3 linked regions of the Homo sapiens genome follow. The protein of the gene in region 2 purifies or fractionates together with the protein of the main gene of each other region. This does not show direct contact. Each region holds a gene or a part of one and is shown on either strand. Other genes may lie near its edges. The genes, in order: PEX7, TBC1D4 and TLE3.

Region 1 (2,653 bases), on a different chromosome or scaffold from region 2:
ATTATGTGAGGGGCTCTCTCTACTCAACAAAATCTTGCAGTGCTACCAGAAGCCATTGCAGTGGCAGTGATAATTAATAAGAGGTCCCCTGGGGACCACATGGCACAATAGTTTTTCCTTACCAGGAAGTTCCTACATAGCAACCTTGGAGAATCTAGAGCCTCTTTGTTAGTTAGTAAAGTGCTTTTTTCTTACCTTATTATTATTTTCTTTATTGTTAGCTTGCTTAAATTTGTAGAACCAGATAGGGCTTAATTAACAAATAGAGGAATACTATTTTCATCAATTTGAATTAATCTATTCATAATTCTATATCATTGCAGTTTTAGATCTATCTTAATCCAATTAAGTATAGATTTATGAACATTTGCTGAATCAGTGGCCTTGACATTTGGTAGTTATTATAAGTCCTGAATAAATAAGAAGCTGGATTGGAGAGTGCCGAATAAGGTTTCAGAAACATAATTTATAGATACCTTGCACTAGAAACCTAAGTCTTATTTCTCTGATTCTCTTCTCTCCAGTAGCGGATGCTTAACATGTGGGAAGGCCCAGCACTTGAAAAAAATAGGCATAGATGAGACAGGGGTAATTTAACATAATGATCTTTGTGTCCTATGGTATAAAAACTGAAAACTGCAAGATTAGGCAAATAATGGTTTTCAGTTTGCCTTTTCTATGAGGCACTGTTTTAGTGGATACATTCAACAGGTTTAGGTTCTGGCTGTAGCTCTGCTACTCTATTGTGAACATGAGGACAGAGTTAACCTCTGAAATTGTAATCTATGAAATTAATTTGTTGAGCCAATATTCATTGAGTTATGTTCTAATAAGACATGGTCCATGCCCTCAAAGAGCTGAAGACAACTCTTTGTCTTCAGTTGGGAAAATAAGTACAATCAAGTATTATGGGTACAATGAATGACTTCATAGAGGAGATGATACCTAAACTGATTTTTTAAAAAAGAGACATCTCTGGCAGAGCAAGGCAAAGGGGACAGAGGAGCAGACAGAAAGGGAGGGAGAAGAGGAGTTATTAAAGGGAAGCGATCAGTAAAGGAACAAGAGCGAAGAGGCATAAGCAGCATGCTTGGATTTGAGGTGTGAGCCCGGTGCAATGAGAAATGAAATGGGAACAACCAGATCTTGAAGAGTGAGGTTTTTAAATTTAAAAGTTTGACTAAAAAGTCTATAATGCTCTCTGTAGCTTGGATTCTGATCTCAGAATATTGGTAGTGAATGATTGGCTATCACTATTCAAAATTAGTGATAGCCAAGAAATTACATTAGTCAAAACGAGGTTTCTCTTGTGTAATTTTCAGCCTTTGTAATAAGCATGAAAGGCTGGGAAATGGAGTGCAAATACTTTTGGTCAAAAGCACTCTCTTGCTACTTCATCTTTCATTTTACTGCCTACCTTGTTTCTTTTCTTCTTTTTTTTAAATTGTGGAAAATTTTGAAAACATACAAAGTAACAGAATCAGATAACGAACTTCATTACTTAGCTTGAACAACTATCAACATTCTTATTTTATTTATTCCTGTACTCTCACACATCGTTTAGTTATCGCTAACATTATTTTTACTATTTTTAGGTATAATTCACATATATTGAAATTTACAAATCTTAGATATACATTTTTGACAAATAGATACGTCTGTGAAATTCACATCATCCCAGTTATTGGAAACTGGGAAAGCCCCCAGTTTCCTTTTTACCCCTTTCCAATCTCCCCTATCCCCACCCTTCCCTCCAGGTGAGAAGAGTAACATTGTTCTGACTTTTTGTTTGTTTGTTTGTTTACCTTAGATGAGTTTTGCCTGTCTTAGAATTCTATAAGGAACTCTTCTGTATGTCCTCACTTGTTTCTGGCCTCTTACCTGTGAGCTTCACCCGTGGTACTGAGCCTGTTAGCAATTCCTCCCTTTGTTTTGCTGAGCACATGCTGTTGTATGAATTTACTACAATTTGTTACCGATTCTTTTGTTAGTGGGTATTTTGGTTGTTTTCCTTTTTTTTTAGACAGAGTCTCACTCTGTTGCCTAGGCTGGAGTGCAGTGGCATGATCTCGGCTCACTGCAACCTCTGCCTCCCAGGTTGAAGCGATTCTCCCACCTCAGCCTCCCTAGTAGCTGGGATTACAGGTGCACACCACCACACCTGGCTCATTTTATGTATTTTAGGTAGAGGTGGGGTTTCACCATGGTGCCCAGGCTGGTCTCAAACTCCTGACCTGAGGTGATCCATCTGCCTCAGCCTCCTAAAATGCTGGGATTACAGGTATGAACCACTTTGCCCAGCCTTGTTTTCGATTTTTTGCTATCGTGAATGAAGTTGCTATGAACATTCGTGTCTACATTGTTTTGCAAACATATGTTTTCATTTTTCTTGGACAAATATCTGGGAGTGGAATTACTGGGTCAAAAGATAGGTATGTGTTTAACTTGGTAAGAAACGGCCAAATTGTTTTCCAAAATGGTGGTACCATATACCTTCCCTACCAGCAATGTATGTGATCACAGCTGTTCCACATCCCTGCTGACATTTGGTGTTGTCAATCTTTAATTTTAGCCATAATGTGAATATATGGTGGTATCTCATTGTCATTTTTATTTGCATTTCCCTAATCCCTAATGATGTTGAGCACTTTTT
Region 2 (3,500 bases):
AAATTTTAAGTGAGAAAGTAAAACCATAATTTTAAAAATTGCTTATTTGGCTCTGCTTGTAGCCATCTGTGTTTCTTCAGCATGCAATTGTTATTTTCTCATATCTTCCTCTTACTGGCTCTGCAGAATTAATCTTATTGGTTCCTAGAAAAAAAAATCACTTTTAAGCATATGTGGGAGAAAACATTTTAAAACCTGGCACTCTTGCAAGTTCTAAATGACATGAGTAATCATTTCACAAGGAAGCTAACATCCCCCTTCATTTTTGTGGCCCTAGAAAAATGCCCATACCAATATAGACAGCTTTGATGTGAAGACGGATTTGTTTCTGTGTATAGAACTCTCCTTTTAGTGATGCAGGACTCACATTGCCAGCTCAAGTGTCTCTGTGGTAATTTTATACCTAGAGGTATATTTTAGAGGGGAATTTATTTGAAATTGACTTGACCCTTTATTTTCCTTGATATTTTTAGATATTGAAAAAGAAAAGTGGTTTACATGGCTCATGGAGGTATTTTAAGAGCAGAGAGCGAACGATAGTTGAAAAAGCAGTTTTCTTCTGAATGACAGTCTGAATGTAAAGTCAAACAAACCCAAAAAGTCCCTCCAGTGTCATAAGAAAAGCAGAAATAAACCTGTTTATAGACTATGAAGATTTTCTTTTAAATAATATAATATGTCTTACAGACTTCTGGTTTCATTTAGAAGGTAGTCTTTATATGAATTAGAATTTGCCTTGCTTTATAGTCAGAATAAAATTTATATTCCATTTTCCTGGTATTTCTCCTGGGTACATCATTGGTTTGTGGATTTTTATTGTATTTTTTTTTTTTTTTTTTTTTTTTTGCTGGAAAGAAGTACTGGTTAGCATAAAATGTTTCCTCCCATATCGTATATGTGAAGATGGTATGGTGGCCTGGCAGAACTTGGGGTGAGAGAGGGAGAGACTCTTAGTTACATGGTGACTCTAAGCAACTCTCACTGGTTTGGGAAAGAGTGTCTGTTTATTCTTGGAGGTCACTGAATTGCAATTTCACTGTTGTCTCCAAGGCATGAGGACATTTCAAAAAATATTTTCCTTCTTTTCCTCTGCAGGAAGGACGTTTCCTACTCACCCTTACTTTTCAGTACAGCTTGGGCCAGGACAGCTGTCACTGTTTAACCTCCTGAAAGCCTATTCTTTGCTGGACAAAGAAGTGGGATACTGTCAGGGGATCAGCTTTGTGGCTGGAGTCCTGCTTCTGCACATGAGTGAAGAGCAAGCCTTTGAAATGCTGAAATTCCTCATGTATGACCTCGGCTTCCGCAAGCAGTACAGACCTGACATGATGTCGCTGCAGGTGAGGCACTTGTGCTTCCCGAGGAAGGTGTGAGACTATTACCAGAAATCCTGGCCCTCTTCTCAATTATTACAGTTCAGATTTAAAGAAATGTAGAGCCATTGTCTTAGAACTTGGGTAAAGATTGGGGCATGTTTTAGTTCACTTAGTGTGGGATTTGCTATTTAGGTAAACTTCTAAGTGTATGAGACCCAGAGGCAGAATACCTTTTCCATAAAATTCCTGAAGTAAGTAAATAAGTAATTTAAGAAAGGTAGGTGATGAGGACCCAGTCCTTTATGCCCTAAGTCTATGGGTTACATGGAGAAGGTATCAAATCATCTTTATTCACTTTTTCTCAACTTCTCAGTTGAAAAGGCTCACAGATCTTTTGTTTACAATCTGAAAGTATCTTTATCCCTTTACTTTTGAGTACACAAATAGCAGATACCATGTTATGGTTCTTTTTGAACTTATCATTGATATCTCCCCTCCTTTATCTTCATGTAAGATAGGCCTTTACAGAGGAAAAAGTGTGAAAGCCAGTGGTGCCTTTTCAGTCTGCTTTGTGTGTGTGTGTGTGTATGTGTGTGTGTGTGTGATGGAATCTTGCTTTGTTGCCCAGGCTGGAGTGCAGTGGCACGATCTCGGCTCACTGCAATCTCTGCCTCCCGGGTTCAAGCCATTCTGCTGCCTCAGCCTCCCCAGTAGCTGGGATTACAGGCAGGTGCCACCATGCCTGGCTAATTTTTTTGTATTTCTAGTAGAGATGGGGTTTCACCATGTTGGCCAGGCTGGTGTTGAACTCCTGACCTCAGGTGATCCGCCCGCCTCAGCCTCCCAGAATGCTGGGATTACAGGCTTGAGCCACTGAGTCTGCTTTTCTTAGCAGGCTCTGAAGAAGCACCATTAAGATTTTCCAGGTATTTTGAGTGGGGTATTAACTGCCACTGCTGTCTTTAGCCTACCTCAGACTCCCTGTTTGCACATTTCTCTCCTAGTTTTCACTTCTCTAAGTGGGTTGGTTGCTAATAAGCAGTTTAAATTTTGTCTATAGATACTTAAACAACCACTGCCTGGCAATTTAAAGCTTTCAGTGGTTAAAAATATAAAAGAAGACTTTAAAGAGGATTCTCAGGTTTTTCCTCCCTTGAAATGAGGTATGCATGACTCCCAGTTCATCATAATACTGTGCTTTAGATAAGAAGTAATAGTTTAAAGATGCTTTTAAAATATACTATTTTTTTCTGTTTCCCAGAGATGAGTTTTTTGCCTTTAATATCTCAGTTGCCAATGTATAACAAAAGAATTGTATTTTTAGTCTGAGCGTTATAGTAAATGATATTTTTTGAGAGTATGAATGGAGATGAAGTATTCCATTTTTCTTTACTTTCTGAAGGTAAAATTTTGACTGGGGAGATAGGGCTTTGCTATCAACATTAGGTTTTCTGGTGTGAGTTCATATGATTTGATTCCTCATTGATGACTATTCGTAGGTTTAACAAGTCAAATAACAACTGTGGAAAGTTTTATTTTTTATTCCTAAAGAGTTTACCTGTATCTTTTTATCTTTTTATCGTTTTTTTTTTTTTTGGAGACGGAGTCTTGCTCTGTCACCCAGGCAGGAGTGCAGTGGCGCGATCTTGGCTCACTGCAACCTCCACCTCCTGGGTTCAAGTGATTCTCCTGCCTCAGCCTCCCGAGTAGCTGGGATTACAGGCATGCACTACCATACCCTGCTAAATTTTTTGTATTTTTAGTAGAGTTGGGGTTTCACTGTGTTGGGCAGGCTGGTCTCAAACTTCCGGACCTCAGGTGATCCACCTGCCTTGACCTCCCAAAGTGCTGGGATTACAGGCGTGACCCACTGTGCCTGGTCACCTGTATCTTAATATCAGATAGGAATCAGATGGTCTTGTAAGGAATTCAATAATTCTGATTTTCAGAAACAACGGTTTGGTAGCTATTATTAGAATTTCAAAGATACAGGGAAGTACCTGTGAGTAGTGTTTGATCTGGGTCCACAGATAAAAGGATAATAGCTATCAGTTTAAAAATACAATGATATTTCAACTTAAAAATTATTCATCAATTTGACATTACAAAAATTCATGTAAATCGGATTTATACATTCATTTAATATGGACTGTAAGTACCAAGAAGTATTTTATGTCTATAATT
Region 3 (3,732 bases), on a different chromosome or scaffold from region 2:
TGGACACATTGAGCACCCAAAGGACACTCAGCTGTGTTTCTGTGAGAGGAGGCAAGTTACTATCCCACACAGATGGGTGGGAATGACCAGGTGAGAGCAGCACACTGACTGTGAAGGATGGTGGATGTAAAACCAGCTGGGAAGAAGGTTCTGGCTTCAGAGAGAAGCAGAAGGGCAGGCTGTGGGGGCAGGGGCTTAGAACTGCTATGATGGAGCGGGTGTCAGTGCGGCTGCCCAGTGGGTACAGGAGTGGAGTAACCCGGGGCCTGGGCTAGGGGACAGCCTCACGGGGAGACCGTGTTGAGCTGGAGTGGAGCCTGTTGAAGGGCAGGGCTGGAGTAGAAAGCATGGACTTTGGGGTTTGGCCTGGCTTCAGGTCCTGGCCAGTAGAAGGACAGGGTGGTTTGGGCTCAGTCAGGGGTGGGGAAAGTGTGGCCTCTTACTGACCAGTTGGCTTCTCTCTTGGTTGCAGGACAGTGATGGAGACAAGAGTGATGATCTGGTGGTGGATGTTTCCAATGAGGTATGGGCAGGCCCGGTCGCAAGGGGGCTCTTGGTTTGGCATGGTTTGGAATTATTCCTCCCCAGGGTGGGATCTATTCTGTCTGTTCTAGTATTACTGGCAGCCTGAGCAGGGAGACAAGGCCTCCAGTCTTGGGGTCTCAGGGGGTCAAGAGGAGCAGGGCAGGGCTTTGCTGCATGGTGTCTGGGCATTTATGGGCCTGGAGGGCCTCCTGCAATGGGTCTCCAGAGAGACACCCCCAAAGATCCCAGGTAGGGGCCATCTTCTATTCCCCGTGATCCTCCGTCCCCCCAGGGTCTCAGCCTCAGGGGCCTGAGGAGGAGCTGGAGAGCATCTACATTTGGCCAAACCCAGCCATGCTGATTGAAGTCCTGAACTTGTGTTTGACATTGGGAAGACCATCCTTCCACCCTCCCTAGGCCTCAGTCAGACCAGATGGTTAAGAGCTAGTTTTTCCTCACTGTGGGGCCCCCAGTCTTTCAGCCAAGCTCGTCTTCCCATCGCCCATGCCCTCTCTCTTCCCACTCCCAGAGCAGGGAAGCCTCGAGGCTGGCTGTTGCTTTCAGTGCATCTCTGCATCACTTGTGTTTTCAGGACCCCGCAACGCCCCGGGTCAGCCCGGCACACTCCCCTCCTGAAAATGGGCTGGACAAGGCCCGTAGCCTGAAAAAAGATGCCCCCACCAGCCCTGCCTCGGTGGCCTCTTCCAGTAGCACACCTTCCTCCAAGACCAAAGACCTTGGTCATGTATGTGGGGTCTGGGTGGAAGGGAGTGGGAAGGGAGCGGCAGGGACTGGAGCTGGGGTGGTGCCGATTGGCAGGCAGAGGGGTGGAGTGGGAGAAGCTGGGTGGGTGATTGGCCCCGGTTTACCTTCTGTGCCTGCTGGGCCTGTGCTAATGAGTTAACGTTTCTGAGCCTCGGTTGCTACGTCTGTAAAATGGGAGTGATCACCCCAGTCCCTGCCAAACAAGGTTGGGCAAGGATTGAGAGGCTGTTCGGCAGAAGCTTCATAAGGGTCTGGCTCTGGGCTTCACGTTGGGACCGGCACCAGTTGTGCCCGGCTCCTAGGAGAATGGAAGCCTCATGGCCTCCCTTGTTCTGCATCTCCCCTCTTCAGAACGACAAATCCTCCACCCCTGGGCTCAAGTCCAACACACCAACCCCAAGGAACGACGCCCCAACTCCAGGCACCAGCACGACCCCAGGGCTCAGGTCGATGCCGGGTAAACCTCCGGGCATGGACCCGATAGGTATAATGGGTAGGCACCATGGGCTGGGTTAATCTGATTGGGGGGAGGGGGTCTGCTCTTGGCCAGGGCAGGGGTGACACACACGCATGGGATAGAGCACAGGCAGTGTCTCCCAGGGCCTGCCCCTGGGGACTTCACGGTCAGATTTGAGGAGGTGACACCAGGGTTTCTGGGACCCCTGCTGGGCCAGACATGAAAGCAGCATCAGACGGGTCAGGGCTCCCAAAATCTGTTCCCACCCCTGTCATTAGTCCAGTGAGGCTCTAAGCAAGCCCATTTGGGCCTCCATATCCTGCTCTGTAAAAAGAGGTGGGTGCATCTGCCAAGCTCTAAGCTTCTTTGGCTCTGAAGGCAGGGATCCCACTTGGGTGGGTTCAGTCTGAGAGGACTGCCTGGAGCAGGCAGCTTAAGAATGCAGGGAGGGTTATTGCTGGGTGAGGCGGCCATGGCCATGTCCCAATCCACCTAAGGCCCACCTCCCTGACGCCCACCCCTCGCAGCCTCGGCTCTGCGCACGCCCATCTCCATCACCAGCTCCTATGCGGCGCCCTTCGCCATGATGAGCCACCATGAGATGAACGGCTCCCTCACCAGTCCTGGCGCCTACGCCGGCCTCCACAACATCCCACCCCAGATGAGCGCCGCCGCCGCTGCTGCAGCCGCTGCCTATGGCCGATCGCCAATGGTGAGCTTTGGAGCTGTACGTAGACCTTTTGGCTCCTTTCTTGGGGACTGGGCGTGGTGTGGGGAGCCAGTGGTTGGACGGGTGCTCCCCACATGCTAAAGGGGCCCCTCAGGGTCTCAAGGCCAGGCAGCTGCCCCTGTGGGAAGGTGTATCGGAAACAATTGAGACTTGGCTGGAAGGGTACACTCTTTGGGGCCAGCAGACCTGAGTTCCATCCCCCACTGGCCTGTGAGCCGCCCTGTGACCTCATGCAAGGCAGCCTCCCTTTTAGTCTGCAAAACGGGGCTGACACCTGGCTTTCCCAGCTCTGGGGGGTAGGAATCCCAGGGCAAGTCAGGTGATGTCCATGGAGCAGGGGTCTCGTAGATGGGACTGGTTGTACAAGACTTTCTATTGTGGTGAATAAATAATAAGAGTTAGGGGTCGAGCGCAGTGGCTCACGCCTGTAATCCCAGCACTTTGGGAGGCCAAGGCGGGTGGATCACCTGGGGTCAGGAAATCGAGACCAGCCTGGCCAGCCAACGTGGTGAAACCTCATCTCTACTAAAAATACAAAAATTAGCCGGGCGTGGTGGCAGGCGCTATTCGGGAGGTGAAGGCAGGAGACTCACTTGAACCTGGGAGGCAGAGGTTGCAGTGAGCCAAGATTGCACCACCGCGCTCCAGCTTGGGCGGCAGAGCGAGACTCCATCTCAAAAAAATAAAAATAAAAAGAAGAGTTAGGGTTGGCGGGGAGAGGGGCCCTTTTTCAGGAGACAGTTTTCCTTTTTACCTCCTGGACCTGGGGTGGCCTCCTCTCCACTGGCAGGCCCACTAGGACCACAGGAGAGGAAAGAAGTAGGGCAGGGCCAGCTCTGCCTTGCAGAACAGGGAGGATGCTGGTTCACAGTGGGGTCTGCACTGTCACCCCTTCCCTGCCACGGGCTGTCCTGGGCCTGTGTCTCCTCTGAATCAATGGGCTCTGCTCTGCTCAGCTTGTCTCTTGGGTTACAAAGTGGCAGAGCCGTGCAGGTAGGACCCCGGGTGGGTGGTGGAGGAGGCAGGGGTGGGGGTGTGTGGCAGCACGGCTGATGGAGGGCTGTCTTGCCTTGCTTTACAGGTTGGTTTTGACCCTCACCCCCCGATGCGGGCCACAGGCCTCCCCTCAAGCCTGGCCTCCATTCCTGGAGGAAAACCGTAAGCTTTGGCTATACTTACTGCATGCTTTGTAGGGTGGGCAGGAGAGAGCACTCTACCCCCAATTCCAACAACGCCCCTCATCCCCTGACCAAGG

Evidence for each region.
Region 1: the proteins of TBC1D4 (region 2) and PEX7 purify together in Homo sapiens (co-immunoprecipitation; one large-scale study listed by IntAct). This does not show direct contact.
Region 3: the proteins of TBC1D4 (region 2) and TLE3 fractionate together in Homo sapiens (co-fractionation; one large-scale study listed by BioGRID). This does not show direct contact.

Annotation. Positions count from the first base shown.
Region 1 is NC_000006.12:136,909,404-136,912,056, forward strand, and holds part of PEX7 (peroxisomal biogenesis factor 7), read left to right. Parts: intron 1-2,653. UniProt on the Homo sapiens protein: Receptor required for the peroxisomal import of proteins containing a C-terminal PTS2-type peroxisomal targeting signal. Specifically binds to cargo proteins containing a PTS2 peroxisomal targeting signal in the cytosol.
Region 2 is NC_000013.11:75,297,170-75,300,669, reverse strand, and holds part of TBC1D4 (TBC1 domain family member 4), read left to right. Parts: intron 1-1,095; coding exon 1,096-1,340; intron 1,341-3,500.
Region 3 is NC_000015.10:70,056,201-70,059,932, reverse strand, and holds part of TLE3 (transducin-like enhancer protein 3), read left to right. Parts: intron 1-472; coding exon 473-523; intron 524-1,117; coding exon 1,118-1,270; intron 1,271-1,641; coding exon 1,642-1,774; coding exon of another isoform or gene 1,775-1,783; intron 1,784-2,274; coding exon 2,275-2,474; intron 2,475-3,558; coding exon 3,559-3,635; intron 3,636-3,732. UniProt on the Homo sapiens protein: Transcriptional corepressor that binds to a number of transcription factors. Inhibits the transcriptional activation mediated by CTNNB1 and TCF family members in Wnt signaling.